5 linked regions of the Homo sapiens genome follow. The protein of the gene in region 3 interacts with the protein of the main gene of each other region in a biochemical or structural test. Each region holds a gene or a part of one and is shown on either strand. Other genes may lie near its edges.

Region 1 (4,687 bases), on a different chromosome or scaffold from region 3:
TGGTTCACCTGACCTGAGGTCAGGAGACCAGCCTGGGCAACATGGCGAAACCCCATCTCTACTAAAAGTACAAAAAGTAGCCTAGCGTGGTGGCGCACCCCTGTAATCCCAGCTACTCGGGGAGGTGGAGGTTGCAGTGAGCCGAGATCACATGACTGAATTCCAGCCTGGATGACAGAGGGAGACTCTGTCTCAAAAAAAATAAAAATAAAAACAAACGAAACAGTCAAACTACTTAAGAGTTGTGCTTAACATAGTGTTCTGTAAGTGGTAGGTATATTGCTATTTTTTTGTTGTTCTTAAGAGTACTACCCGACTAAAAATACTTGGGCAATATTTAGGGATGAAGTATCTAACTAAAAGAACGGCCACTTCGAAATTTGTCCTGACATTTTTCAGGTGTGCATTTTAGGTTTAAAATATCAAGTATTACGGAAAGTTGGCATTGGAAACTTTCATAACCGGCACTAAAACGAATCCTTTATCTATTTGACATTGAGGAATAATTTTGAGATTCAGTGTAAGCTTTAGTTTGGTGATTAGGGAGCCTGTGCTATGGAACATGTTAGTGAAAATTTATTTTGAATGCATGAATTAAATTTGGACAGTTTCTACTGAACAGCACAAGCATCTTGGTGTGCCGCCTTCTGTAGTATATACAATAGTAATATTGCATTTGCTTAGAGCATTGCAGACTTGAAAACATTCTTAGTCACATTCTCATTAAGGGTTGGTATTAGCCCTGTGAGGTGGACTGGGCAACTACTTGAATGCAGTACTAGCAAATGCTAGAGGGCAGGACTAGTTTTCTCTTAATGTAGTATTTGAGCACATGGGGTGCTAACCATCTCACTCTCTTCTAGTTTGCTGGCCTAGACCTGAACTCTTCAGATAATCAGAGTGGAGGAAGTACAGCCAGCAGTAAGTACAACATCTTGTGGGTTTATTGAATATTAGAGCTTAACATCTTAAGATTTCATTGGGCTTATGTAAAATTTAAGAAATTTGCCTTTCAATTTTTTACTGCTTAAAGAATTATGTAGTCTTTGTGTTATAGAATTATGTAGTACTTAGTGATCAATCTAAAGCATCGTTGCCTTTTTTTTTTTTTTTTGGTTGAGATGGAGCTTTGCTCTTGTTGCCCAGGTTGGAGTGCAATGGTGTGATCTCGGCTCACCGCAGTCTCTGCCTCCGGGTTCAAGCGATTCTCCTGCCTCAGCCTCCCGAATAGCTGTGCCTTTCTGATAATAAAACATCAATGACTAGCTGGCTCTCTTGAGTAAAAGCAGCTAATCATTGGAAAGAACCTTATTATATCAAATTATCTCTAGAAGAGTTTTTGTCCATTATAAATCCTGAGCCCAGTTTAGAGGTGATGGGAATGTGTCCCTGTTAACTGACTATATTTATTAAATTGAATTAAGGGAATATGCATTTCATTGGTTATAGCTACTCCTTTCTCCTGAAGAACAGAAGACTATACTGAATTTTGGATTGGTGGTTAGGTTAGGTTTTCAAATGTGTCATTTCTTTTAAAAAGGCATTAGAAAAGTTGCTTTTTTTCTTCTAAGGGGGGTTATTTAGAGACTTGTTAGAGGTTAGTGTTAAGATAGGGGATCTTGGTGGTTTATTATAAGGGCAATAGACCCTTATTTTTAGCTCAGATCTCTTCCTACTTATTAAAACAAAAGTGAGTATGGGCTATGATGTGTCCTCATTTTTAGGCAAGAACAGCTTCACTGGGAACAAAACTTGGTGTTTGCTTTAACTTTCACCTTATTTGTCATGCTAAGAATCTTTTAGGAACTGATTGTCCTAGTAGAGATTTTTAAAAATATTTAATTCAGTCTAGAAGTGAAAAAGAAAAATGACACGTTTACTAGTTATAAAGCAAATTTATTTGGCTTTATGTTGTTTTTTTTGCTTATCCATATTCTAGGCTGTACTCCTGCTCGCATACAGAGCAACTGTCAACTTTCCTTAAACTCAGCAAGCCCCAAATTAAAACCTGCAATTCCTTGAAATTAACTCCCCTTTGCAGCTTTTCCTTGTTTATTTATTGTATGTTTTGCAACTTACTGGCATAGAAACAAAAGATTGTGAGATATGTTACATGAGTAATCTTAAATTGTTACAGTAATACTTAATGCTTTTGTTGACAGTTTTGATGACAGTTCTCTTAAATCTAGCAGGCCTTTAAAAAAATCACATTAAATGACCACTGGTGGCTAAATGTGCTCAATTTGTGGATTTCAACTATTAGGTTCCAAATCAGCTTTTTTTTATCAAACTCCTTTCAGAGTTCTCCTTATGAAGCAGTAACCCATTTAAAATTAGATTCTTATTTTTCCCCCCTCTCAGTGTCCAGGTAAGTAATCAGATTGGAAGGCTGGAGATTTTAATTTCCCAGAACCATTTTTTAGTAACAGAAATTTAAATGGGAAGGTTTTTTGGCATTTAATTAATTTTATATATATATATATTTTTTTAGAAGGGCGCTATATTCCTCCTCATTTAAGGAACCGAGAAGCTACTAAAGGTAGGTCCTCACAAGTAACTTCGTAGGTCTATTTTTTGCCTCCTTTAGAAGTTAGTAAAGCCTAAGGAAAACCAGGCATTTGGGGGAGGTCTAAACATGGTGTTGTTTTTCTATGCTTCTGTCAGCCTTGGTTCAAATACTAGAGCTTAATAATTTTGGAAGAACTCATCTAATGTTACGCAGTGGGAAATTCGGCATTCCTATGTCAAACTGTTCTGACGCCAAGGGCATGGTTTTGTACAGTTTCACTAGTGTTGTGCTGAATCTGTTTGTAATCATTCACAGCATGGTTTTAGTTTGGAAGAGGTGGGTGCCCTACTGTGTAAACCAAGCTGTATAATGATAACAACCTGGTTATTTCTGTCTTGGCAAAGTTGCTAGAAATGAAGATGGGCTTATTGTAGAACAGTTAACAAGTTACAGCGTTGGAAGTGATTCTCTGGTTTCATCTCCTTGCCTTGCTGCTTTTGAAAGGTTTTGTCCAAAATGTATTACAATATCTGGTGTCTTTTCCCATTGTAATTGTAACGTAGTGATAGATGACAGCTAGTATATGTTTCATATTATGAGACAGCTGTTCGGGTGCTTTATATTCTGTAAAATAGACCATCCAAAATTTGGAGGAAAAGGGAAAGTCAGGAAAACCAAAGATTAGGAGGGAAGATACTGTATAAAGAAGGCAGATAGGAAGAGTGGAGAGTCCACAGGGGAGCACATGGTTTGCTGCTGTTCCTCCATCTCCATATGTAGTCTGTATTACCTTCACTGTCCTGGCAATGCATGGATATAAAATCTGTATTATTTCTACCAGAAGATCACTTTGGCTTTTTTTTTTTTTTTTTTTTTTTGAGACGGAGCCTTGCTCTGCTGCGGAGGCTGGAGTGCAGTAGCGCGGGCTCACTGCAACCTCCGCCTCCTGGGTTCAAGTGATTCTCCTGCCTCAGCCTCCCAAGTAGCTGGGATCACAGGCATGTGCCACCATGCCCGGCTAATTTTTGTATATTTAGTAGAGACGGGGTTTTGCCTTGTTGCCTAGGCTGGTCTCGAACTCCTGACCTCAAGTGATCCACCCGCCTCAGCCTCCCAAAGTGCTGGGATTACAGGCGTGAGCCACCATGCCTGGCTGGCATTATATTCTTTTTAGGGGAGGTTACTTTGGAATTTGTCTTTATCATCATGGATGTTCTCAATATTCCTAGTATACTAGCTAGAATTGACCCTCGTGTATATGGCAGTATCATAGAGGTTTTAGAGCTGGTAGAGATCTGGCAATCTAACTTAACTCTTTCTTGCTAGCAAAGGCTGTTGGTCACCTGACTGGCCTAACGGTAGGAGGTAGAAGGCAGAAGGAAAGTAACTGAATTGAGAAGCTGTTTCTGTTTAATAAGGTGTTGCTGAAGCTAGTTAAACCCTCTACCTGTCTTTAAACCCTCTACCTGTCTTTGGGTTAATTTACATGTTTGTCATCCCCTTACCTGGATATTTATAGCTGTACCCAGGAACCTTGTCTATACTGAGAATATATAGTGATGAGGGTTTTTCTTTTTCCCAGGTATTCCTGATTGTCATCAAGCTTATAGTAGATGAACCACTAAAATAATACTACAATTTGACATTAGTGTTCTTGTACTTTATACTATTGAAACTGAAAAATACTGTATTAAACCAAGTAATCTGACAGTCTATGAATGTTCTAAATGAATACCACCTCCAAGAAACATGGAAACAATGGTAACTGTTTTTCCTAGTAAACTCATTCACACCTATAAAATGAATGGAAATTAAATTGTTATGGTCACACAACGTCATAATGCGTTACAGGCAAAGCTGTTGACCACTTAGAGGTAGTATTCATTGAGAAACATTCTTAGACTGTCAGATTGCTTGATTTAGTGTAAAGTAATTTTTTTTTTTTTGAGACAAGGGTGTTTCACTCTTGTTTCCCGTGCTGGAGTGCAGTGGCGCAATCTTGGCTCACTGCAACCTCAGCCTCCCGGGTTCAAGTGATTCTCCTGCCTCAGCCTCCTGAGTAGCTGGGATTACAGACGTGGGCCACCACGCCTGGCTAATATTGTATATGTAGTAGAGACGGGGTTTCTCCATGTTGGTCAGGCTAGTCTCGAACTCCTGACCTCAGGTGACCTGCCC
Region 2 (6,792 bases), on a different chromosome or scaffold from region 3:
GTGGGAACTGAACAATGAGATCACATGGACACAGGAAGGGGAATATCACACTCTGGGGACTGTGGTGGGGTGGGGGGAGGGGGGAGGGATAGCATTGGGAGATATACCTAATGCTAGATGACCAGTTAGTGGGTGCAGCGCACCAGCATGGCACATGTATACATATGTAACTAACCTGCACAATGTGCACATGTACCCTAAAACTTAAAGTATAATAAAAAATAAATAAATAAATAAATAAATAAATAAAAGAAATATGATAAACATATAAATAATATGTGGTGGAATGTAAAAAAAAAATTGCCCCTGAAGAAAACAAAATGGTTTTCTTTAAATCAAAAAAAAAAAAAAAAAGAAAGAAAAAGACCTATAAAAGGTAAGATGTCAAGTGCTAACCAAGAGAAAGCTTTGAATGCCACGATGAAACACCTGGATCAGATTCAACAAAGACAAACATATAACTTTAAGTCTGAGTAACAAGATGAAAATATAAATTAAAATTAATCTGACAGATTTAAAGTTTGAAGTAATAGAAGTAGGAAGACAAGATTAATAAAAAAAACAAGGTGATAAAGGCCTAAATGAGGATGGCACAACGAAAAGGTAGTTACTTCTAAAATTTTAAACTATGCAACTTCTGAGTAAGGATAGTGAATTAAATGTATCTATCTATTTCTACTCTCTTCTCTCTTCACTCACACACAGGAAAAAAATTTTTAAAAGCAAAAATTTTTACACAAGACATAAAACCACAAGGATGGAAAGAATAAGAGAAGAAGAGCAATAATTTTTTTGAAACTAGAGATAAAATGGACTATTGCCTTGGGAGATCGACAAGAACTAAATCCTAAACTGACAAGGGAAAAAGCAGAAAACCAACTCAATTTACGCTATGGAATTCCCCAAAGTCTCAGAAGCTGGTGAGTCCAGGTAACTCTGGGTATGCAGGGTAGGGTGAATGAAGTGAAAATAAGGAGAATTAGTTCAGCATCTGTTTACTACAGAGATGGATTCCTAGATCCTTTTCTCTATTCCTTCTAACCAAGGCAACTACCCCTCTCCATTCTGTCAAAAGACAGATTTACTCTCTGGAGAGTATAAATCAAAGGTCTTACAGTCTAGTGAACACGACGTAAAGGTGAAAGTGAGGGACCCGTACTGAAAACAGGAAAACTAACACCAATGTATGCATACTACATGCTTCATTTTTCTTCTGTGTTATACTGCCTATTTCCTATATTTCGTATCTCCACTTTCTTGGTTTACTATCTCCTACTGGTAGAGCCTATCTTCTAGTGGATTCCTGAAAGGGTGTAAGAAATGCCTTGGATGTATGAAAATATTTCTTCTATTTCACTAATTGATAGTTTGCCTAGCTATGGAATTCTAAATTAGAATTTATTTTCCCTCAGAATTTTGAAGGCATTACTCCAAAGTTTTTTTTTTTTTTTTTGAGACAGAGTCTTCGCTCTTTTGCCCAGGCTGGTGTGCAGTGGCGTGATCTCGGCTCACTGCAACCTCTGCTTCCCAGGTTCAAGCAATTCTCCTGCCTCAGCCTCCCAAGTAGCTGGTACTACAGGCACACACCACCACGTCCAACTAATCTTTGTATTTTTAGTAGAGACGGGGTTTCACCATGTTGGCCAGGCTGGTCCCAAACTCCTGACCTCAGGTGATCCACCTGCCTCAGCCTCCCAAAATGCTGGGATTACAGGCGTGAGCCACCAAGGTCAGTCAGCCTGTTCCAAGGTCTTCTACTTTCCAGCATGACTACTGAGAAAAAAGACCAATCTGATACCTGAATCTTTTGAATGTGAATAATCTTATTCTCTCTGAAGCTTATAGGATATTCTCTATCTGATGCTGAAATTTCAGCATAATGGGCCTTGATGTGTGCACAGCCCCTTTGATCTGGAAACTAATGTCTTTCACTGGGACACTTTATTTAAACAGAAACAAAGAATTCTGTTAAAAGAAATAAAAATGATGCCACTGGAGAGAAGGAAATGAGAGAAAGGGAGCAGAGGACTCCCTTATAATTTTTTTGTAACAAACATTTTATAAAACTATCTAAGTCTTTAAATATTAATATATGGATGTATAGTTTTGATTTAAATAACTTTTATATATGTATGTATACACACATACATATACACACACACACACGTATATTTGGCAAAAGACCTGAGAAGAGTTAATAACCCAGATAAACACATAAAAAATAAAATCCAAACACTTATAGTTCCTTAGCCTGGGGAAATGAAAAACTGAATTGTGATAGTGATGAAAGATACAGAAAGGTAGGAAGAACAGCAGATTTAAAGGAAATACTGGTGAGTACATACATATATAGGATGTTAAAGATTATTCAAATAGAGGCTGGGCGCAATGGCTCACACTTGTAATCCCAGCACTGTGGGAGGCCAAGGCAGGTGGATCACTTGAGGACGGGAGTTCAAGACCAGCCTGGCCAACATGGTGAAACCCCATCTCTACTAAAGATACAAAAAATTAGCCAGGCGTGGTGGCACACTGTAGTCCCAGCTACTCGAGAGGCTGAGGCACAAAAATCATTTGAACCTAGGAGGCGGAGGCTGCGGTGAGCCAAGATCGCACCACTGCACTCCAGCCTGGGCAACACAGAAAGACTCTGTCTTTAAAAAAAACAACAACAACAAAAAAAAACAGATTACTCAAATAGAGCTGGGCATCGTGTCATACACCTATAATCCCAGCTACTAGGGAGACCAAGATGGGGGGACTACTTGAGCTCAGCAGTTCAAGACCAGTCTGGGCAATACAGTGAGACCTCATTTCTATAAATTAAAAAAAAAAAAAACTATTCAAACAGAGATGCAGCCAGGCACAATGGCACACACCTGTAGTCCAGCTACTCAGGTTGCTGAAGTGGGAGGAATGCTTGAGCCCAGGATTTCAAGACCAGCCTGGGCAACATAGTAAAACCCTGTCTCAACTTTAAAAGAAAAAGAGAGAGATATCTTTTAAATAGATAAAAATATAGGAAAGTAGTTTATGTGAGAAGCCAGGAATGAAATTTTTGGAGTCTTTTATACATAAAAGATAAATAAAGGGTGATATGGTTTGGCTCTGTGTGTCTCCACCCAAATATCATGTCAAATTGTAATCCCCAGTGTTGAAGGTGCAGTCTGGTGGGAGGTTATTGGATCATAGGGGTGGTTTCCAAAGGTTTAGCACCATTCCCCTAATGCTCTCTCATGATAGAGTTCTCAAGAGATCTGGTTGTTTGAAAGTGTGTAGCACCTTCCCCTTCTCTCCCTCTATCCTGCCAGCCATGTGAAGACATGCTTGCTTCCCCTTCGCCTTCCGCCATGATTCCAAGTTTCCTGAGGCCTCCCCAGCCCTGCCTCCCATACAGCCTGCGGAACTATGAGTCAATTAAACCTCTTTTCTTCATAAATTACCCAGTCTCAGGTAGTTATTTATAGCAGTGTGAGAATGGACTAATACAAAGGGAAGAGGACTATGGTAGGTACCAAGTGAATGTCAAATTGAAGTAGGAAGGCAAGCAGCTAGAAAGGCAGGTAGGTGGGCAAATGGGAAGAAATGAAGGAAACTGCTTGGTTTACTATTTAGTTCTAGCCCCAAGCCGGGCACTGTGGTGTACACTTGTAATCCCAGCTACTCAGGAAGCAGAGGTGGGAGGATCATTTGAGCTCAGGAATCCAAGACCAACGTGGGCAACATAGCAAGACCCTGTCTCAAAAAAGAGTCAAGACCCTGTCTCAAAGAAGAGTCCTAGCCTCAAGGGTGAGAAGAGAAAAGTAGAAGCATACTGAACAAGAGAAAGAAACAAGCAGAAAGATAAGCAAAAAGGACAAAGAAGGAACAATCAGTGATAAAGACCTAGCAACAGTGTCTCTGAAACCAAGTTTCTAGGAGAGGCTCAATTATGGAGTATCAAGAACTTGTAGAGGATTCTAATAACAATCCTAAAAGCTGCAGTGCATGATTCATGCCTGTAATCTCAGCAATCTGGGAGGCCAACAGCAGGAGGATCACTCGAGGACAGTAGTTCAAGACCAGCCTGGGCAGGCCGGGCGCGGTGGCTCACGCCTGTAATCCCAGCACTTTGGGAGGCCGAGGTGGGCAGATCACGAGGTCAGGAGATCGAGACCATCCTGGCCAACATGGTGAAACCCCGTCTCTACTAAAAACACAAAAATTAGCCAGGCGCGGTGGCACGTGCCTGTAGTCCCAGCTACAGGAGGCTGAGGCAGGAGAATCGCTTAAACCCGGGAGGCAGAGGTTGCAGTGAGCCGAGATCACGCCACTGCACTCCAGCCTGGGTGACAAAGCAAGACTCCGTCTCAAAAAATAATAATAAAATTTAAAAAAAAAAGGACCAGCCTGGGCAACATAGCGAGATCCTGTCTCTACAAAATTAAAAAATTAGCTGGGCATGATGGTGCATACCTATGGTCCCAACTATTCAGGAAACTGAGGAGTGAGAATCGCTTGAGCCTAGGAATTGGAGGTGTTGCAGGAAGCTATGGTCACGCTACTGCACTCCAGCCTGGCTGACACAACAGGACCTTGTCTCAAAAAAACCCTTAAAAGTATTTAAAGAATTGAAACATAGAACTAGGAGAAAGAAATATAGAATGTTAGGCTGGGCGCGCTAGCTCAAGCCTATAATCCCAGCACTTTGGGAGGCTGAGGTGGGCGGATCACAAGGTCAGGAGATCGAGGCCATCCTGGCTAACACAGTGAAACCCCATCTCCACTAAAAACACAAAAAATTAGCAGGGCATGGTGGTGGATGCCTGTAGTCCCAGCTACTCGCGAGGATGAGGCAGGAGAATGGCGTGAACCTGGGAGGCGGAGCTTGCAGTGAGCTGAGATCGTGCCACTGCACCCCAGCCTGGGTGACAGAAGGACACTCAGTCTCAAAAAAACAAAACAAAACAAAATGAAGAATTATAGAATGTTACAGAAAAGATTTTAGGAAACTACTCCTTTTTTTTTTTTTTTCCTAGAGACAGGGGCTCACTCTGTCAACCAGATTAGAGTCCAGTGGCATGATCATGGCTCACTGCAGCCCTGACCTAGCAAGCTCAGAGATCCTCCCACCACCTCAGCCTCCCAAGTAGTTGGGACTATAGGCATCCACCACCACATCTAGCTAATTTTTTTATATATATTTTTGTGGAGACAAGGTCTCCCTATATTGCTCAGGCTGGTCTCCAACTCCTGGGCTTAAACAATCCTCTCACCCTGGCCTCTCAAAGTGCTGAGATTACAGGTATGAGCCACCACACTCAGCCTGGAAACTACTGTTCTAGCTCCTTTTTTTAGCACCTTGCACTTGGTTCTCCAACCAAGCAATGCCTTGCCCCCAGGCTGCCTAATGTGGTATTTCACCCTTTTCATCTACAAAAAAGACAATACTCCACCTACCTCCTTCTCAAAAGATATCCATTGTACTATATTTCAGTAGGAAGGTGACTCTAAGTCACAATGGAAAAAATCATAACTTGGAGATTAAGAATGATGACTGTGTAGATGGACTGCCAACAATAAAATTCTGTCTCTAACTTCTAGTAGCTATGTGACTTCAGACAAGTTACTTATTCACTCTCTGTGCCTTAGTTTCCTCATCTGTAAAACAAGAATAATAATACTTACCTAATACGATTGTTATAAAAATTAAATGAGAACAGCTGGTAAGTATTACTAATAAATATTAGATATTATTATAGTTAGTACAAATTCATGATGTCAATGGCTTAATTAGTTTTATCCCTTCAAAGGTATTTCATATTAACAGTGGGTTTTACATTCATTTTTATTCCACAAACATACATTGAACTCTAATCCAACATACTAGGCACCCACTGTAAGCACTGCAATGCTCTGGTAAACAAGGAAAGCAAAAGTTCTGCTCTCATGGAACTTATATCCTAAGTATGCTGGTTTTGTTGTGTTTTTTGAGACAGGGTCTCACTCTGTCTCCTAGTCACCCAGACAGGAATGCAGTGGCACAATCATGGCTCACTGCAGCCTCAACCTCCCAGGCTCAGGTCATCCTCGCATCTCAGTCTCCCACGTAGCTGGGACTACAGGGAATGCTACCACACCCTGCTAATTTTTTGTATTTTTTTGTACAGATGGGGTTTCACCACGTTGCCCAGGCTGGTCTCAAACTTTTGGGCTCAAGCAATCCACCTACATCAGCCTCCCAAAGTGCTAGGATTACAGGTATGAGCCACCATGTCCAGCCCTAAGTATACTGTTGAATCCATAAACTTACTTGTCCATTCAACTACAATGAAAACGTGGAGGGAAAATATAAAATGGGCCTCAGAGGGTGGCTCACACCTGTAACCCCGGCACTCTGGGAGGCCGAGGCAGGAGGATTGCTTGAGCCCAGGAGTTTGAGACCAGCCGGGGCAATATAGTGAGACCCGGTCACTATCTAAAATAATAAAAACTTTAAAACAAGAAAATACATTGACGAAATTATGAAAAGTGACATAAATTTGAAGAGTTTATGTGAAAAGTTGGAGACAGTTGCTACAGACTAGACATAAAGATTAGCAACAAAATAGGAAAGTGCAGCCTGGCATATAGAAGGAACTTAATTATCCACTCCTTTCCCTGGGTTTGTCTCCTTAAGTGTAAAATGATAGGTGTTGTCATATTTCCAACCTGAAGATTCACTGATGTCTACTTACTAAAGTCATTATGGCATATTAGGCAGTCGTGGTTTTTTTTTTTTTTTTTTTTTTTTTAGACGGAGTCTCACTCTGT
Region 3 (6,792 bases):
ATGACAAATGCAATGGGTCAGCCCCCGGGAAAATGCAAGCGTGTGTGCCACACAGTCCACACACACGCACACACGCTACGCACAAGCACACACACGCACCACACAGTCCACACACACGCACCACACAGTCCACACACAAGCACACACACGCACCACACAGTCCACACACACGCACACACCACACACAAGCACACACACACCTTACACACCACAGTCCACACACACCACACAGTTCCCACACACGCACACACACCACACACAAGCACACACACACCACACACACCACAGTTCACACACACCAAGCAGTCACACACACGCGCACACACACCACACAGTCACGCACACACACACCACAGTTCACACACACCACACAGTCCACACACCACACAGACACACGCACACACACACATATATACACACATGTGTACACATACAGTACACACACATGAACACAGAGTCCACACATAAGCACACACACGCTCCACACACATGCACACACATACACACAGTCCACACATGCACACAGTCCACATACATTGCACACACTTGCACATAGTCCACACACATGCATACATACAAACACATCAACACACACATATACAAATGTGTGCACACATACAGTCCACACATATACATACACATACACACAGTCCACACACACATGCTCACATGCACAAACATACACACATACACAGACACACACACACACACGTGTATTCATAGAAATCCTGAATCCAACCTTGGATTCCTCAGGGGCATCCAGTTAAGACCCAGAGAGGGCCATGCACTGTAGGTAACAGCACAGCCTCTGAAGTCCTTCTGCCCAGGGTTCAATTCCAGCTTGCCCACTTTTTAGCCGTGTGACATTGACTGTGTTCGTTTACTTCTCTATGCTTTTGTTTCCTCACTTGTAAAATGGGGAACGTGATATTCCCCTAGGTTCGTTATGGGGATTCGGTGAATTCTCATATGTGTATGTGAAGTGCTTGGCACATAGTAAGCACTATATCAGTGTTCATGAAATAAAAACTTTTCCACATAGGAAAACTCTCGGAGCAGAGGACTTCCAGGCTCCTTGCACAAGCAGACACTGCCGCATCTCATTTCTGCCATCGCAGACTCCCAGGTGTCCCCAGGAGTGCAGCCCCCTCCACTTGGTGAATTATTCCTGGAGATGGGGATAATTGTTAAGCCACGTGGGTGCCCTTTCTCCCTCGGCCTCTCCTCCCCCGACCCCCGGGGAGAGCTGACCCCCACAGCTCCTGGCCATTCAGCAGGAGGCTGGGGAAGTAGCTCCCACCTCTGAGGCAGGATGGGCTGGGGGCTGTCAGCTCTATCATCTCCCCTCTGAGGTCAGCCGAGCACCTCTATTCCACAGATGAGGACACTGAGGCTTAGAGAGGAAAAGTGGCTTCCTGGTGTCATCGCACTGCTTCCCGTGAAGCAGAGCCATGGGTTTATGGTCCAGGCTTGCTGGGCTACTCCAGCCAGTGCCACACATGTTGAGGTGTCTGCTGGGCCTCTAATGAACAAGGAGCCACCCAGGGCTGCTGCTCCATTGGGGTGGGGAGAGGACGGGGGAGAAATATCCTTGGAGCCTTTCAGACACCAGCCCAGGATGTACTCAAAACACTTCAGAGGACAACTTCACATAACCCCAATTCAGACCACTTCAAACTCCAGTGAGGAATGTGGGGACCCTGCTTACAGATGCTCAGAGCCCTTGAGATGACCCATGGTGGGGCCAGGCCCTTTACCAGGGCTAAGCACCCAGGCACCTCATCTTATTTATCCTCTGGCCAGCCCTGGGAGACAGACACTATTATTTATTCCCATTTTATAGGTGAGGAAACTGAGGCTCAGAGAGGAAATTGCCTTGCCACATTCACACAGGTTGGAAGGATCTATGCCGGATTTGAGCCCAGATCTTTCTGGTTCCAGAGCTGGAGGTGGTCTTGTCTTTGGGACTCCCAGTTCAGGGGCTTGGCCTCTGCCTCAGGAGCACACAGTTCCTGGGCTTGGAAAAAGTGATGGGGGCGGGGAGCAGCCCAGGGCAGGGCAGTGGTCCTCGTGGGGCCACACAACACTCCACCTAGTGCAGCAGCAGCTTGTTTGCTATCTCTGGTGTGTTTTTGCCTTGCGCTCCTGGCGTGGTCCTCAGACAGGCCTAAAAGCCGTCCAGCCAGCAGGCCTGGGGGAATGAAGCCTGTTTTGTAGAAGATACAGAAGCCAGGATAGGGGAGGTGACATGCCCAAGGTCACACGTGACTGGACGGCAGGGGCAGGTGAGCACCTGCTGAGCTGACAACAAGCAGTGCCCAGCAGCTGCCTCCTCACCCTAGCTGAGCTGACCACAAGATTCCAGACCTCAGCTGGAGCTGCAGCCTCATACTGGCTGAGTGGCTCCAAGACACAGAAGGAAGCAGGGTGGCAGGCTGACCTCAGCCAGCTGCCTGCCCCCTCTCCTCTGAGGCTGGCCTGGGACCGATGGGGCTCTTCCCTCCAGGAGGGGTTTCCGGGCCTCCTCTTTTCCCCTACCTCCCTGTGGAGAACTGTCCACCCCTCCAGATATGCTCCAGTGATGTCGGAGGGGATGCCTCAATCTGGCGAGACGCAGCGGCAACAAAATCTGCTCAGAGACAAACGGACATGTTGCTGATATGAATCTCACTTGGTGAGTGGCAACAACAGAGTCCTGCATTTGGGTCTGTGCAGTCGTGCACACCAGAGACCGCTGACCCCCGCCCGCAGCACAGGGAACTGCATATATACACAGCAGGTACAAATATGGGCACACGACAAAACGCCCATACAGGATAAAGATGCAGGAAGAACAGGGCACTCCAACAGGTCCGCATGCACAAACGCATGTGCTCTATGACCCGCACACACAGCACACATGTACAAACATCCACAGACACAAGTACACACACATACACACTTACATACATAAGCAAGATCAACACGGGCAACTCCTAAGACACAAACACAGACCCACTCAATGAATACAAAGGAAAATAGACCCAGAACTCACACACAGAGACAAATGAACACACATATGCAAATGGGTTCCTGAAGGCATCACCCCACCCATACAACCTACATGGAAACTCACTATCACACACGAACGCACACACAACACACACAGTGCTGAGTTGGCTTCGTAGTTAGCAAAACTTCCCTGAGAGCTCCATTTTCCCTAAGTGCCAATTTCATTTCCCTAGGAAAGTCCCAAAGACACCGAGAAATGCGGTTATGTCTCCAACCACCATCTCCAGGGATACAACATCCCTTGCCGTCTCTCTGAACCTAGGCCCAAGGGGTTCACGAAGGGGCCGTGCTGGGCTGAATCGCTGGAGCTGGGCACCAAGGGGGAGCTCACCATCACGTCACTGTGCCAAGCGCCAAGCAGAGCCACTGTGAGGCAGTGAGGACTGGAAGGGCCTGGGAGGAATAGCCGGGATCGACTTTTGCTGGAAATTGGCCCTTGCAGGCCTCCCTTCACCCAGAATGCCTGTGATCACTGTGCCTGGGCACATGGGCTTCACTTGGCAACACCTGTGCTGGCCTGTAGGACCAACCTACCATTTTGTATCATTCTCCTCCCACCCCAAAGTTGAGTGCCAAAGATCTGCTCCTGGACCCAGGCACACCTGCCCCCACTGGCACACCTGGGCACATCTGCCCCCACCTACCATTGCCCATCGTCAACACCTGCACATTCTCAAATTCCAGGGTGGTGTAGGCTGGGTCCAGTGCAGCACTGTAGTCGGCCATGTCCATGTCGACGAGGGTTTTGGAGAGTCGCATTCTCCCTGCCTCCACGCCGCGGCCACCTGCCCTACCCTGGGCGCCCACCCCGAAGGCCCCCGCCCTCCGCCCTCCCACTGCCTCCTCCCAGTGCCCTCTCTGCCTTCCTTTCAAACCGTCCTCTGGGAAGATCTGCTGGGAGTCTTGGCCTAGCCTCTGTGAAGGGGTGGAGGCTCTGCCGGGGAGGGGTGGGGGTTAATGGTTAATCGGTCCCCCGCCGGTGGATAGGCTGGGCGGGGCTGCAGGGATTTGGCTGTTTGTTGGTTTCTGGCTGACACCCGGGGTGCTAATTACAACTGCTGGGGCCCTAACTCACCGATGTTCAGTTATCAATTGTACAAGGCAGGCATCATGACTCACGGGCACTCATTTGACCCTTGACTCACCCACCCCTCCAAGCCATTGTCACCCCAAGTCAGGCATTCTAACTGATACTATCAGGCACTGACAGCCTACCTCCGAGATCCCCTAATTCAATAACTTCCCAAATCATTGACTTCTACCCTCAATGCTTTTGCAGAGATAAGGCTGCCCCATGGCCCACGATTTAGAAACCTAAATCCCAGGCCCCAGATGCCAATCTTCTGGATCCTTGTTCTGGGAGCTCCCTTCCAGTTCCCCCGCAGTTTCCCGGTTCCCCTGGGAGCAGAATGGACTGGAAGTTTGGGAGGGCCAGATTCACCTCCAATTCCCCGCTCCTGCTCCCTGTGATCCCACCCTGCCCCTCTCCGTCTCCCACAGCTCCCAGTGTTTCTGGCCCAGGCTGGCTCCATCTCGGATTTTCCCATCACATTCTCCTGTTTCCCTCACCCCCACCCCCTCCCGGAGCAGGCAGAGACCTGGATTTACATTCAGGCACCTACCGTCTACTAACTGGGACCTTGGGTAAATGATTCTCCTCTCCGAGCCTCAGTTTCCTTTTCTGTAAAATGTACAATCAACTTCAAAGGGTGGTTTGAGAAGGAAATGAGATGGCATAAATCAAGCACCAAGTGGGGCCTGGTAGACGTCCATCCTCTTCCCCCTCCTCCCTCTCCCTGTTTCGTATCCCCCTTGCCATCCCCCTGTTTCTCTCCACCCGTCTCCTACCTTCAGAGTGGGCTTTGTGGGGGTATCGCCAGTGCAGTCACAGGCAACCCAACCCTTAGAAAGTCCTGGTTCCTGGTTCAGTGCTCTGCTGTGGTTGTCCTAAAATTCATCATGACTTTTGAACAAGGGATTGTGCATTTTTGTTTTGGACGGGGCCCTGAAAATTACACAGCTGGTCCTGGCTGTCTGAAGCTCATGGTGCACTCTGTTCTTCTCACTCCCTCCAGCCCTCATTGCCTTCTGTGCAGACATTTTCAAGGGCTGCCAATCAATCTGGGGAAGTAAAGTCTTGATGTAGAAGGCAGAGAGTGAGGGCAGAGGAAGAAAAGCCTGAGACTTGGGAGGCCTGGGAGCCTGTCCTCCACTGCTGGCTGGAAGGGCAGGTTGGAGGGCCTCGGTGACACCTGTGAGCAAGAGTGGGCGAATTAGTGGGAGCACCAATTAATGAGTGAGTGTGTGGGGGAATTGATGAGTGGGTGAATTAGGAGTGAGTGAATTAGAGACAGGGAGAATTAATGAGTGAGTTGAGTGAATGCATGAATGAGTGAGTGAATGAACGAATGAGGGTAAATTACTGAGTAAGTGAGCAAATGGGTGGGTGAATTAATGAGTGAATGGGTGGGTGAATTAATGAGTGAGTGAATGAGTGAATGTGTGGGTGGATTAATGAGTGAGCAAATCGGGAGTCAGGGCATGTGTGTTCGAGTGGTATGAGGAGGCATCTTCATGTTCTTTCCACTGCTAGAAGCCCTTTCTCTGCCCTGCTTAGCTTTATTCTGTCCACTTGATCTGACCTCTGAAGCTGAGATGACTGGGGAGTGCTATTGCCTGTAGGGAAAGGGGAGAGGGAGCAACTGTTGTGGAGGACAAGAGAGGCTAGATTTGATGTCAGGAGACCTGGGGTTAGGAACTAGCTCAGTCACTATTCCGATAACTTTATTTACATCGTCTCTTCTCAGGGCTTCAATTTCTCCCTCTGTAAAATAGAAAGATGATCCTGGCTCAGTTTTCTGTTAGCCAGGACAAGACTCTGAGGGAGGGAGCAAGAGGCAGCCCCCTGCAACCCACACTATGAGACTTGATAAGGGGCTGAAAGAGACCAAATACCGGCGGGTTCCTCCCATGCCTACCTCAGGAGTATCTGACCTGGCTCCACCGGCCTTGGGGGCAGTGCAGAGGTGGGAAGAAACAGAAGATCCGACCAAGGGGTAAACACAGAAGAGATGTGGAGGGCAGCTCCGGGAGGAGCCTCCAAGGGCTGAGCCCAGGCCTCTGCCACCTGCCTGGCACCTATGGCAGGCCACAGGCACAGCTACTCCCCACACAATCCAGGAATACATGGCCTCTTCCACTCTGAGGCACAGTTCCACATTGCTTAACGGGGAATGTGATCAATGTCATGTCAGAATTTCATTGGCAACAAAAATAACAATGCATTTTTCCATAGATGACATCTTAGATTCAATTAAATAAGGTCTACGATCAACCAAGATCAACCACACCATGCCACAGCCATGACCCGTTATATCCAAGAGCTACTAGGTGGACACTGCAAATGAAGAGCTATTAGATACATGAATCATGACATACCTGACTTACCAAATGCACAATCTGCATGACTGCCTAGGAGGCACATTCTAGATTCACATCCCACCACATTATAACCTACCCCATAAGTAAATCTATCCACTCATCACTGTAAATTGCATAATCTATTACATACATGATTCATTCCACCCTTAGCCAACGCCAAACAGTATCTCCTAGATACACATTCCTCATATAAATGACGCACCACCTATAAGATCTGCTGGCTCTGTGACCTCAGGCAAGCTATTATTTCTTTTGTTCTTGTTGTTCATTGTTACTACATAGTTTATTTAAACCAAGCTA
Region 4 (6,792 bases), on a different chromosome or scaffold from region 3:
CATGACAATACACATTGACCTTCCTTGTTCTTTCTAATGGATAAATAACATTCCATTGTATTAATTATATTATATAACCTAATTGTACTCAACTCCCCCCTAGGGAGCCATTTGGAAATCTGAGGAGGTACCTTTTTGTTGCCACAATGACCAGTGCCCCACTGGCATTCTGCAGGCCCCTAAAACAGGGATTCTAGGTATCCTACAATGCTCAATACATTCTAATAAAAATTGACTTTTTTGTGTGTCCTGTGCAACTTTCAAATGTCCCACCAGACATTCAAGTGAATGAAAAATCTCATATGACCTAGAAGCTAATTCCATGTTATATATAAAGCAAAGTATTTTTGAGAATTTTAATATGCACTGAAATTTCCAGACAGGCAATTGTATATAAGTCTAGAGGAGAATGTATTTTGTTTTGTTCAGAACGTTTAGTTATTCTAGCTTGTGGTGTTTCTTAGTCACCAACATGACACGCTTGAATCATTCTGCATTTGTATATGCACAGTGATTCAACATATGGGTTCAAGTATCTAGTACTTAAATCATGTCTTCTATTGTAATTATGTCTAAACATATTGAAATACATATTGCTTTATTATAAATTGCATTGTTTTACCATAGATTACTTCTCTTGTATTTATCTCTTTTATTATAGTTAGAGCATTATTATTTTTAATTTTTGAAATTATGTATGCCAGGCATGGTGGCTCATGCCTGTAATCCCAGCACTTTGGGAGGCCAAGACAGGTGGACCACTTGAGGCCAGAAGTTCAAGACCAGCCTGGTCAAGATGGCGAAACCCCACCTCCAATAAAAATACAAAAATTGTCTGGGCCTGGTGACGCACACCTGTAGTCCTAGCTACTCGGGAGGCTGTGGCATGAGAATCACTTGAACCTAGGAGGCAGAGATGGCAGTGAGCTGAGATCATGCCACTGCACTCTAGCATGGGCAACAGAGCGAGACTATGTCTCAAGAAAAAAAAAGAAATCACATATGTAGACATATTGTCTTATGTATTTTATTTCCAAATAGTAAACTTGGCTGATTGCAAACTCTCCCTCCCAGACTCAGTGATCCTCCCACCTCAGCCTCCCTAGTATCTGGGACTACAGGTGCATGCCACCATGCCCAGCTAATTTTTTTTTTTTGAGACGGAGTCTTGCTCTGTTGCCCAGGCTGTAGTGCAGTGGCGCGATCTCAGCTCACTGCAACCTCTGCCTCCCGGGTTCAAGCGACTCTCCTGCCTCAGCCTCCCAAGTAGCTGGAATTACGCCCACCAACACACCCAGCTAATTTTTGTATTTTCAGTAGAGGCGGGGTTTCACCATGTTGGCCAGGCTGGTCTCGAACTCCTGACCTCAGGTGATCCGTCTGCCTCAGCCTCCCAGAGTGCTGGGATTACAGTCGTGAGCCATTGTGCCCGGTCTTTTGTATGTACATTTCACATCTGTTCCTCAGGATATATATTTTCCTAGAACTAAAATTGTTGAGTGTACAGTTATTGAGCATTTTTAGGTTTTTGATACACAGAGCCCAACTGTCCTTCAAAAGGTATTTCAAAATTTTTTAAAATCTAAGAGAAAGACTTTTTATCTAATTTTTCACTGAGATAACAGGAAACAAGAGAGAGGCTTTTTTTTTTTTGAGGCGGACTCTCGTTCTGTTGCCAGGCTGGCAGGCTGGAAGGCTGGAGTGTAGTGGTGCGATCTTGGCTCACTGCAACTTCTGCCTCCCAGGTTCAAGTGATTCTCCTGCCTCAGCCTCTCAAGTAGTTGGGACTATAGGTGTGTGCCACCATGCCCAGCTAATTTTTGTATTTTCAGTAGAGATGGCGTTTCACCATGTTGGCCATGATGGTCTCAATCTCTTGACCTCGTGATCTGCCTGCCTCGGCCTCCCAAAGTGCTGGGATTACAGGCGTGAGCCACCATGTGTGGCCGAGTGAGGCTTTTTAACCATCATTCAAATTCAATAAAGGGTTAATAAACTTGACTACATTAATAAAAAGAAAACAAAAAACTTTTTTTGGCAAAAACACCATAAGGAAAGTAAAAAAGCAAGTATACTTTAAGAAAATATTTGTAAACATATCAGAAAAAAAGCACTGAAATCCCTAGTATGCAAACAACTTTAAAAAATTGAGAGGGAGGCCGAGGCAGGCAGATCACCTGAGGTTGGGAGTTCGAGACCAGCCTGGCCAACACGAAGGAAAGCCCATCTCTACTAAAAATACAAAAATTAGCTGGGCATGGCAGCATGTGCCTGTAATCCCAGCTACTTGGGAGGCTGAGGCAGGAGAATCGCTTGAACCCGGGAGACAGAGGTTACGGTGAGCCGAGATCGCACCATTGCACTCCAGCCTGGGTGACAAGAGTGAAACTCCGTTTAAAAAAAAAAAAAAAATTGAGAGGGAGAATAAAAGACCAAAGATCCTGCTGCGAAAGACACAAAGACAATTTGGGGAAAAAAAAGAGACATAAAATGGCCTTAAACATATGAAAAAATGTTCAGCTTCACTCATAAGCAAGATAAAATTTAAAACTACCCTGACATATAGTTTCTCACCCATCAGATTGGCAAAAGTTTCAATGCCTGACAATATAATTAGTCAGGCTGTGGGAATATAGACACTTTTTTTTTTTTTTTTTTGAGAAGGAGTTTCACTCTTGTCGCCCAGGCTGGAGTGCAGTGGCACAATCTTGGCTCACTGCAACCTCTGCATCCCAGGTTCAAGCGATTCTCCTGCCTCAGCCTCCTGAGTAGCTGGGATTACAGGCACGTACCACCAAGCCCAGCTAATTTTTTGTATCTTTAGTAGAGGCTTCACCATGGTGGTCAGGCTGGTCTCGAACACCTGACCTCATGATCCACCCACCTCGGCCTCCCAAAGTTCTGGGATTACATGCCTGAGCCACCGCGCCCAGCCGGGGCACTCTTACGTATCACTGGTGGGAATACAAAATAGTACAACTCATATAGAGGGGCATTATCTTTTGACCCAGCAATCTCACTTCCAGGAATTTTTTACCATGAATATACATTTCCAATAATACAAAAATACACACATCCAAGGTTATATATAATATTAGATGTAATTGCAAAATACTACTTAGATGTCCAAGTATAAGCAATTATTTGAATAATAACATATCCACACAATGAAGTATTATGCAACTATAAAAAACAGAATGAGGACAACCTCTACCAACTAATACAGTATTTCCAGGAGATACTATTAAGTGAGGGGAAAAAAGTACAATCCTGGTGCTGATTGAAGAATTTTTTTAAAAGTACAAAAGAACACATATATATAGTATGCTATCTTTCCTATAAGAAATTAGAGGCCAGGCACGGTGGCTTGTGCCTGTAATCCCAGTACTTTGGGAGGCCAAGGCGGGTGGATCACCTGAGATCAGGAGTTCAAGACCAGCCTGGCCAACATGGTGAAATCCCGTATACAAAAATTAGCCAGGTGTGGTGGCAGACACCTGTAATTCCAGCTACTCAGGAGGCTGAGGCAGGACAATCACCTGAATCCAGGAGGTGGAGACTGCAGTAAGCTGAGATCGTGGCACTGCACTCTAGCCTGAGTGACAAGAGCGAAGCTCTGTCTCAAAAAAAAAAAAAGAGAAAAGAAAAAGAAAAAAATTAGAGTAAAAAACAGTCCTCTTTTCTTTGCAAAAAGGATTAAGGGACAGATTAAACCAGAAAACAATGAAGTTGGTAAGTACAAGGGGTTGAGGGCAGGGGATAGTGGAATTATATTGATGTTGGGAGCCAGGGTTCTCACTGAGTAGAGACATGTGAATGAGGAATTAATGCAGACAAGAAAAAAGCCCATGATGATGAATTAGAGGTATCAATGTGAACTCATGATTTCCTCAAAAGAAGTATATGTGTACGTAAATGTGCATGTGTGTATGTATACTGGCATATATGTATATAGCACATAACATGCATATATTTCCTAGTTCTGTCAGCCAAAAGGGCCAAGATGCAAAAATATTCTAGTAGATGAAAAGATCTCGGTCTCTGATATGACTCCCTTGTAAAAGTACCAGGACTCCTCAGAGAAGTGGCTGATTCCAGGGCGGGGGGAGTACAGGATGCACTTGGAGTATTTAGTTATGCCAAAAAGGACGGAGATGCTAAAAAGAAAAAAAAAATGATGAGAGTACGCTATAAGGATGTAGGAGCCCATTTGAAGGGACTCCCAGTGGCCAAATTTGGAATAATCCATGAACCTAGCTAGTTATGTATGCTAATAAATCGTAAATCCTTGAAAAAATAGGAATTCCTGTGTCCATAATAAAAAATAAGTAAAAAAGTGAACAGATAAAGAAAATGCGGTACATATATACCATGGAATACTATGCAGCCATAAAAAAGTAATGAGATCACATCCTTTGCAGCAACATGGATGGAGCTGGAGGTCATTATCCTAAGCAAACTAACACAGGAAGAGAAAACCAAATACCCTCTGATCTCACCTACAAGTATGAGCTAAAAAAACAAGAACACATGGACACAAAGAGGGGAACAGAAACCAGGGCCTTCTTGAGGGTGAACAGTGGGAGGAGGGAGAGGACCCAAAAACTACCTCTCGAGTGCTATGCTTATTATCTTGGTGACAAAATAATTTGTACACAAAACCCCTGTGACAAGAAGTTTACCTATATAACAACCCTGCACATGTACCCCTGAACTTAAAATAAAAACTAAAAATGCTAACTAGTAAATGTGGAGAGAGCACTAGATTTGGCAGGGGGTGGGGGGGGAATCATCTTTTTGCAACCTTAATAGTAAAGATTGGGCCAGGCATGGTGGCTTATGCCTATAATACCAACACACTGGGAGGCCAAGGTGGGGGCATCGCTTGAGCCTAGGAATTCAAGGCTCCAGTGGGCTATGATTGTGTCACTGCAGTCCAGCCTGGGTGACACAGTGAGACCCCATCTCTTAAAAATAAAAAAAATTAAAAAATAAAAAACATATATATACACACACACAGAGACAGACAGTGCACATGCAAATGACAAAGCAGATGGAGTAAAAGGTTAACAAAAGGTATGTGGGTATTGTTTGTATTCTTATTCTTGCAACTTAAGTTTGAAATTATTTCCAAAAAGAAGTTTATTTTGGACACTCCCAGCATTAGAGCAGTCCACTTAGATTTCTCTACATGTAAAATGAAAGAGTTGAACTAGATGTGTCTGAAGACTCCATTCTCTCCTAAATTTATATTAGGAGTGTGATCAAAAAGTAAATTAGAGCTCCTTTAAGAAATTGTTCTGTCAGGCCGGGAGCGGTGGCTCACGCTTGTAATCCCAGCACTTTGGGAGGCCAAGGCTGGTGGATCACCTGAGGTCAGGAGTTCAAGACCAGCCTGACCAACAAGGTAAAACCCTGTATCTACTAAAAATACAAAAATTAGCCGGGCGTGGTGGCAGACGCCTATACTCCCAGCTACTCGGGAGGCTGAGACGGAGAATTGCTTGAACCCGGGAGGTGGAGGTTGCAGTAAGCCGAGATCATGCCACTGCACTCCAGCCTGGGTAATGCAGCAAGACTCCATCTCAAAAAAAACACGAATTGTTGAAGAGGAAACAACACCCAAAAAGTACTTTTCTGATTCTTCTCATTAGGATACTACTAAACATCTAACAATGGAATTTCTATTTCTGCCAAATCTCATATATTCAGAATCAGGGAAAAAGAGCAGTATAATTTTTTTTTTTTTGAGACAGATTCTTGCTCTTGTCACCCAGGCTGGAGTGCAGTGGCATGATCTTGGTTTACTGTAGCCTCTGCCTCCCAGGTTCAAGCGATTCTCCTGCCTCAGCTCCCGTGTAGCTGGGATTATAGTTACTCGCCATTACCCCCAGCTAATTTTTGTATTTTTAGTAGAGACGGGGTTTTGCCTTGTTGGCCAGGCTGGTCTCAAACTCCTGACCTCATGATCCACCCACCTCGACCTCCCAAAGTGCTGGGATTACAGGCGTGAGCCATGGCACCTGGCCAGTATAATTTTTTTATCCATAGTTATGGCTACTTGAATTTACTTCATACATACCCCATAATTCTCTAAATTATTCTACCGTGGTTTACTCTTAGAAACAAGTTCCACATCAAGGGGGAGGTGGGATGATCTTTCCTTTATCTTACCACTGACACATTTCTTATCAAGGTGCCTGAAACATGTTATTGGTCTAAACAGAAATCCCATGGCTTTTCTAGGTTTAACTACAGGTTAATCAGAATATGCCTGGTCCATCTCAGCCTCATTTTCTTTTTTTTTTTTTTTTCTTTTTTTGAGACAGAGTCTCACTCTGTCGCCCAAGCTGGAGTGCAGTGGCACAATCTCAGCTCACTGCAAGCTCCGCCTCCCGGGTTCATGCCATTCTCCTGCCTCAGCCTCCCAAGTAGCTGGGACTACAGGCGCCTGCCACCATGCCTGGCTAATTTTTTTTATTTTTTACTGGAGACGGGATTTCACTGTGTTAGCCAGGATGGTCTCCATCTCCTGATCTCGTGATCTGCCTGCCTCGGCCTCCCAAAGTGCTGGGATTACAGGCGTGAGCCACCACGCCCGGCTGCTTCATTTTCTTGTAAGACCCAGGGTCATATGTTTGTGTCATGTGTTCAATGGGTAATCAATATGTATTAATTGATTTTATTTTGATACTCATAATTCCCTTAGAATCAGAGTCAAAGGGCTTTATTGCCTAACTTCATCGTTTATTTTTCTTCCTTGATCAACTTCCACTCTAGTTTGCTATTAAT
Region 5 (6,505 bases), on a different chromosome or scaffold from region 3:
AATCCCAGCTACTTGGGAGGCTGAGGCAGGAGAATCATTTGAATCCAGGAGGCAGAGGTTCCAGTGAGCCGAGATTGCACCATTGCACTCCAGCTGGGCAACAAGAGCGAGACTCCATCACAAAAAAAAAAAAAAAAAGCCAAGCAGCTTGACACCAGAACCCCAGAACCCCAGCTTGTAAGCATTTTCCTTGTACCATACTGCTTCTGCAAATCAGGTTTTATTGTTGTTTTTAAAGAACATAAGAACATAAAGGACCTTTGAGTTCAGCTAAGCAAATTGTTTCATATTTGGGAAAACCAGGGACCAAGGAGGTGGTCTGCCCAATTCACACAATACAGAAGTGGCAGAGATGGGTCCCAAAGGCAGGTCTTGAGGCTCTGCATCTGCCATCCTATTCCTTGCACTACGGGTAGGATCTACTCAGGAATTCCTGACTGATGGGGCCAGTGCCCTGCAGTGAACGGAAAGGCAGGCCTGTTCTCCTGAAGCTTACAACAGATGGGCAACAGGTACTGAGCCCTCAATCACACACATATTCTCATCACACCAGAGAACTCTGCCCCTAAGTGGAAACGTTCCTATTAATTTTAATGGGAAAAAATCATGATGTGTTCCCTTGCAATCAAAGAAATCCAAACAATCTTTACAGATGGGGAAAATAAATCACCTGAACAAGGAGAATATATGTATGAGTTTGTATGAGTTTATGTAATAAATAGCAACCTGAAAATAGTTTGCACATAACATAAAATGTAATCATTCATTGCACCTGTTCTTATTTTATTTATTTATTTTGAGATGGAGTCTTGCTCTGTTGCCCAGGCTCTGTTGCCACGACCTTGGCTCACTGCAACCTCCGCCTCCCGGGTTCAAGCGATTCTCCTGCCTCAGCCTCCCGAGTAGCTGGGATTACAGGCGCCCCTCACCACGCCGGGCTAATTTTTGTATTGTTAGTAGAGATGGGGTTTCACCACGTTGGCCAGGCTAGTCTCGAACTCCTAACCTCAGGTGATCCGCCCGCCTCAGCCTCCCAAAGTGCTGGGATTACAGATGCGAGCCACCGCGCCCAGCCTGTTCTTGTTTATATATAATTCTCTTTGCCAGTGTTTCAACCCTTTGGGGCTTATGGGTGTCTGGCATTTAAAAATAAAGTTAAAGCACAAAAAACAGCTTTAGGGCAAAATACAGGCTAACCCCTTTGAGACGTGAGGAAATAACACACAGGCACGCAACTGAGAGTCTTGGAAGATGCCACTTCCTCACCCTACTTGCTGGAAGTACACAAAGGAAAATGTTCTGAGCTCATTCAATTACCGCACACAATGCAGGCCTGCTCTCTATGAGATCCTCTGACCAGAAACCATTTTGTAATTACAAATTGATGAGTGTTTTGCCTGGAACCACAATGCCAAAATACCTCCTACAGTGCATTTATTCAATGTGCTTATGTGAAAGTTGATATACCAAAACAAGGAAGTCTTTGTTCAGAAAGTGGTATAGCTTTATAAAAGTCAGGGCAAAAAGTCGTTCATGGAACAGCTGTTATGTGAGATGAGTCTGAATGGTTATTTTATTTATTTATTATATTTTATTTACTTTACTTTTTCAGAGATGGGGGTCTCACTATGTTGCCCAGGCTGGCCTTGAACTCCTGGGCTCAAGTGATCCCCCACCTCAGCCCCTGTGCCTGGCACGAATGGATATTATGAACTGTGAAAAGTGCTCTGAAGGAGGGAGAAGTGTGGTGAGGTGAGGAGCAGACATCATCCGGGGTCTTATCTGAGAAGGTGACGCTGAAAACTGAAATCTCTTCCCCATTTAGTGGTCAGAGTGTCCCTCAATGAGCTCCCAGGACCAACAAGGAAAAACACACATGGGCAAAGCTGTGGGTGGTATTTTGTTTTTAATCTCCATAGTGTATTTGTTAAGTTTATTTATAAGCAGATCACTTCACTATTTACAGTACATGAGCATAGAGATTCTACAGTTTCTGTGATGTAAACAATAACCCCACAGTGGGAGTTTGAGAAAAGAAGCCAGTTCTGAAGTATTTACAGACATTAAAATAGAACTTTATACTCACAGAATAATAATACATAGAGCAATTTGGTTAAATTATCTAGGAAACTATAGAATCTGACAATGTACAAATACAAGAAAACATTTTCTCATTTAGAAGGTAAGACAGAGAAATCACACCAGAAATAAAATAGGGACGATGACAACCACAATATGTAAAAGCAAAGAAGGTTTCCTCCTTGCCTCTTACGGATAAAGTATTTATATAAATAAGGACACAACCCAACAAAATGGAAAAAATATATAAAAATCCTCTACCAATTAAAAAAAATAGCAAAACTAAAAACTTGATTCTCAATCATTAGCAGTGTCCTTTAAAAAATTAAAATTTAGCTTTCTATTATAAATAACAAAGCAGATGTGTCCCTCTGTGTAGGTGAAATTCTTGCACCTTTCTCAATAAATGCATCAATGTAATTCCACACACACACACACACACAAACACACACACACAGGCACAGACGTGTGTATGTGTGCACAGATACACACACACACACCCCCACCACAAACACAGCCTTACACTCACGCACTCAGGCCGTAGTTACCTTGTTAAGCTTCCTAATAAATAATGCCCCCTACAGTAGTACCCCCGGGGATGACAAAACCTCACAGGTTTAGCCATTCCTTGGTTTGACCCTGTCGCAGAGTCAGGGAAAGCCCTGGCTCCTATTGCTCAGAATTCTCTAGGCTGTGTGGTCACACCAAGAGAAAATAATTTGAGTCCAAGATTTGGAAATGCTGGAAAGGACCATAGGGACCACCTTGCCCAGTTGATTAAGGCTGGCTACAGACACCTTCTTTAGAAACCTGGGGTTGGGGAGAGGGCTCGTGTTGGTTTCAACATTAGCAGCTGCCTCTGGAAGAAGCAGATGCTCCAAGCCAATGCTAACAACATGGCACAAGGAGGCGAGGGGGTGGGTGTGAATTCCAGAGCAGACTGCACTAAGCTGGACTTCTGGATGGTCATCTTCCCCAGAAACCATTTGGAAATCCAAGCAGTCTATTCCCCTGCTGCACATACCACCTTGTCCACGCTCCCCTTGAGATTTCCCACCTGTTTCCATTGGAATCAGAACATCCCTCAAGAAACAAAGTTGGGAATAGTTTATGACTTTTTATTCCTAACACAAAAACATTTGACAAGATTTTAAAAATACAAAATACAGAAACAAAAAATTGAACAAAAAAAACTATTTGGCTATTCGGGGATCATATCAAAGATCATGGCCAGGCCCCCCACAAAATCCTTACACCCAACTTCTTATCTTGCCTTGAGGGCAGAATTCGGACCACCCAGCAAAGGTTTACTTAACAAGGTCAGCAGCTGGGCTGCCAGTATTGCAGTTACAGTAAACCCTTCCCGGGCACCTGGACCTCTCCTGGTCCACTCCTGTCTCTTCTGCCCACAGGACAGCTAGTGCATTTCTCAGTTCTGCGTGAGAGTCTACTAAGTGGCTGCTTCTGGAGTCTTCTGACCCTAGTGTTGCACTGATCTCTGAACACAAAGGCAGTTCGTTCAGGCCATTATATTTCATTCCCAAAGTTCACGATGGACAGCAGGGTGGCCGAAAGGATTTATTTGCCTTCCATCTGGGTAGCTGGTGGAGACAACCTTTGGCCACTAGATGGCGACCGCATGTTGATAAGGCAAAGTGCTGAGGTGGAAACTGACCAATTCCCTTCACAAGTAACCAATGAGCAAGGGTGGTCAAGTGAAAAAGGAAGCTTTTGTAAGCCGCCTTGGAGACTCCTTTGACCAAAAATACAGCCCAGGGGGGTTCTAGTTATATAAACCCCTCTTTGAGGAGTTGTTGCACAGCCCAGGGACCGACCACCTATAAAACCTATTTTCCAAGCCCCAAATTTGGGCAGTTGGATTTTTGTACTCCTTCCGGATGTGCAAAGCATACTGATGAAACAGAGTATCTGAAAAGCTGTCCCCAGGAATCACGAAGGCTCAGTCACTGCTGCTATACCATTAAAGAAACAAAAAACAAAAGCTGCCCTAAACATATGCAGCGCGATCAATGCCTCCTGTTGCCCCATATGTTTTACAATCATTTGAAAGAAATGTGTGAAAAGCTCCTAAGCTGTTTTTCTTTAAAAAAAAAAAAAAAAAGTGTATTGCTAGTATTGTCTGAGAACAAGAGAGAAACAGCCAAATGGTCACAACATTCGGATTAACAGCTATCCAGTGGGGACAAAGACAAGGTTAATGTGAGATTTGACATCGTTACCTAGCCAAGTTGGGGGTTTAATTCCTTACTGTCCCCACTAGAAACTATGGCTTAGATCTGTCCCGGGGAGCTGGTCTTCTTGGATAAGGCAACTCAGCCAGGACACAGTGGGATTGAACCTACTGCTGGTTGGTTCTTGCAGAGAACCCTCACCCTGAACAGGAGCTGGGTCAAGTCAGAGAATGGAATCAGTTTCAAGGAGGAGTGATGGATTCCCAATGCTCCTGGTTGGGGATCTGAGCCTCTCAGAGGTGAAAGGGACTTTAATGCTCATATTCAACATTCTCATTTGGTAGATGAGGAAACAGGGGCCCAAGGTCACATAGCAAGTAAGAAACATTAGGGTTTCTGATTCTGAGATGGCTTACAGTTAAGTGACTTACTCTACAAACTCATTTCACTCAGCTGGGCTGTTTTCATCTTTCTGTAAAGGTAGGTACCAAGATCTAAACCCATGGCTCCCTGTTTCAAGGGCTTCCAACAAAAGGCCAGCAAAGGGTTGGCCCCAGCACTGGCTCTCCTGCTGCTGACATCTCCAAAGGCATCTCTGCTCTCTCCTACCTGACAGCAGCCCCATTCCCAAACTCCCTGTCCCAGTCTCTAGAAGATCACTTCACACAGCCAAAGGAGACTCGTATTTTCCAGTGTAGAAACACGGACCCAGGCTGAAGTGTTGGGGTTTTCTCAAAGTGCTTTTATTGTTTAATGCAAAGTCAGCCTTTGCCTACTTCCTGGGTGTCTTGTAGCCGGCTCAGGGCCTCCCCCATCCCATGGTGGTTCTGGGCCAAGGACACATCCATGCATGTGGGTTTCCAACTCTGCAGCTCCCCTCCATTTACCCGGTACCTCCAAACTTGACGAGCAGACCTGGAGCCCATCTGTGTGTAAAAACCCCTCAGGGACTAGGGGACTAACTTTGACATATTGCACATGCACTAGTTTTCTTCTTCCCCATTGGTAAGGATGACAGGGTCCCTCTTCTTTGGCCAGGGAAACCATGACATTCACTTTCTTTGCTGTTGTACATCCAATTTCTTTCCTTAATCATATCTGATGCTGGGATGTGGGTAACCCCAAACTGAAGGCAGCTGCTAAATCTCAAATGCTAAAAAAATACTGCAATTTTGACATCAGTGAGTCAGATCAATACATCCTCTGGGGCTGATTTTGCTTCACAGTTAGGATGAGCCATCTCTTAAGCTGCAGGCTCAAATGGGATTAACTGAACTCTATACCTGGGATGGGCCATGGACTGAGCTGTCCATGCAGAAGGACCAGGCTGTCCATGCCTTCCCTGCCCTTTTACTCACCACTGCACAGCAGCCCCAGTGGGCCTACTGCACATGTCTAGGAGAAATCACTCTAAGAAAACCAACAGGAACAGGCTTTAGGCAACAAGAGACGTCTCACTGCATCTCCTCCCACGTCAGAACTTGAGTACTGGGTCTTTGCAGCTCAGAGCATTCCTCCCTTCCTTCTCCTGCCCGCAAAGCCCTGCCTCTCTCCTGAGTACATATGACACTCCATGCTGCAAGATTTCAAGGCAGATGCAGGTATCTTATGGGTGCTTTTTGACTCAAAGCAGCTTTTTGGTTGAGGGGGCAAGTTGTGACGGAGCAGGGGGTGGGGGCCTTAGCTGCACTCCATCCACTCATATTCTTTAACTCTTTGATGCATTTTCCTTCGGTAACCAGAGCCCCCGAGAATGGGGATTCTGATTCAGCCTTGTACAGACTGAGGAAGGAGATGGAAGAATTCCACTTAGTGGTTGGATCAGACATTTTTGGAAAACACCAGCACGGCACAGAAACGGACAGTACGACCTGCCCTGTGCGGGCGGCTATCGACACAGTCTACAGCAAGCTTTATGGCGATCACATGTAAACATCATCAAGAGCAAACACTAGGACAGAGCTACAACGAGATGGTTGCCAATGGCAGCTGCTCCCTCTGGGTTACTCCTCAATTTGGTGGGAAAGAGACCAAGGTTCACTCGTTTTTCTGAATAGACCTTGGAGTTGCCCTAAATAATACACAGCACCGAATGAGTCCTTCGGGATAGAGGTTGTCTGCAGGGTCGGTAAATTTTAGAACTTGTAGCATTTTATGTACGGGATAGCAAGTAGAGACTACTCGATGCCCTTGGCAGGCAGCGTCCCCTAGCCCTGACTTTAGGTATGTCATGT

What was found.
Region 1: the proteins of HNF4A (region 3) and DDX3X form a complex in vitro, tested with the Homo sapiens proteins (one study listed by BioGRID).
Region 2: the proteins of HNF4A (region 3) and ARNT form a complex in vitro, tested with the Homo sapiens proteins (one study listed by BioGRID).
Region 4: the proteins of HNF4A (region 3) and TADA2A form a complex in vitro, tested with the Homo sapiens proteins (one study listed by BioGRID).
Region 5: the proteins of HNF4A (region 3) and PPARGC1B form a complex in vitro, tested with the Homo sapiens proteins (one study listed by BioGRID).

Annotation. Positions count from the first base shown.
Region 1 is NC_000023.11:41,336,545-41,341,231, forward strand, and holds part of DDX3X (ATP-dependent RNA helicase DDX3X), read left to right. Parts: intron 1-863; coding exon 864-921; intron 922-1,146; exon of another isoform or gene 1,147-2,491; coding exon 2,492-2,539; intron 2,540-4,687. UniProt on the Homo sapiens protein: Multifunctional ATP-dependent RNA helicase. The ATPase activity can be stimulated by various ribo-and deoxynucleic acids indicative for a relaxed substrate specificity.
Region 2 is NC_000001.11:150,864,547-150,871,338, forward strand, and holds part of ARNT (aryl hydrocarbon receptor nuclear translocator), read right to left. Parts: intron 1-6,792. UniProt on the Homo sapiens protein: Required for activity of the AHR. Upon ligand binding, AHR translocates into the nucleus, where it heterodimerizes with ARNT and induces transcription by binding to xenobiotic response elements (XRE).
Region 3 is NC_000020.11:44,398,391-44,405,182, reverse strand, and holds part of HNF4A (hepatocyte nuclear factor 4-alpha), read right to left. Parts: intron 5,304-6,792; exon of another isoform or gene 3,811-5,303; coding exon of another isoform or gene 3,696-3,810; intron 2,630-3,695; coding exon of another isoform or gene 2,539-2,629; intron 1-2,538. UniProt on the Homo sapiens protein: Transcriptional regulator which controls the expression of hepatic genes during the transition of endodermal cells to hepatic progenitor cells, facilitating the recruitment of RNA pol II to the promoters of target genes. Activates the transcription of CYP2C38.
Region 4 is NC_000017.11:37,411,741-37,418,532, reverse strand, and holds part of TADA2A (transcriptional adapter 2-alpha), read right to left. Parts: intron 1-6,792. UniProt on the Homo sapiens protein: Component of the ATAC complex, a complex with histone acetyltransferase activity on histones H3 and H4. Required for the function of some acidic activation domains, which activate transcription from a distant site. Binds double-stranded DNA.
Region 5 is NC_000005.10:149,850,405-149,856,909, reverse strand, and holds the end of PPARGC1B (peroxisome proliferator-activated receptor gamma coactivator 1-beta), read right to left. Parts: 3' UTR 1,888-6,505; downstream 1-1,887. UniProt on the Homo sapiens protein: Plays a role of stimulator of transcription factors and nuclear receptors activities. Activates transcriptional activity of estrogen receptor alpha, nuclear respiratory factor 1 (NRF1) and glucocorticoid receptor in the presence of glucocorticoids.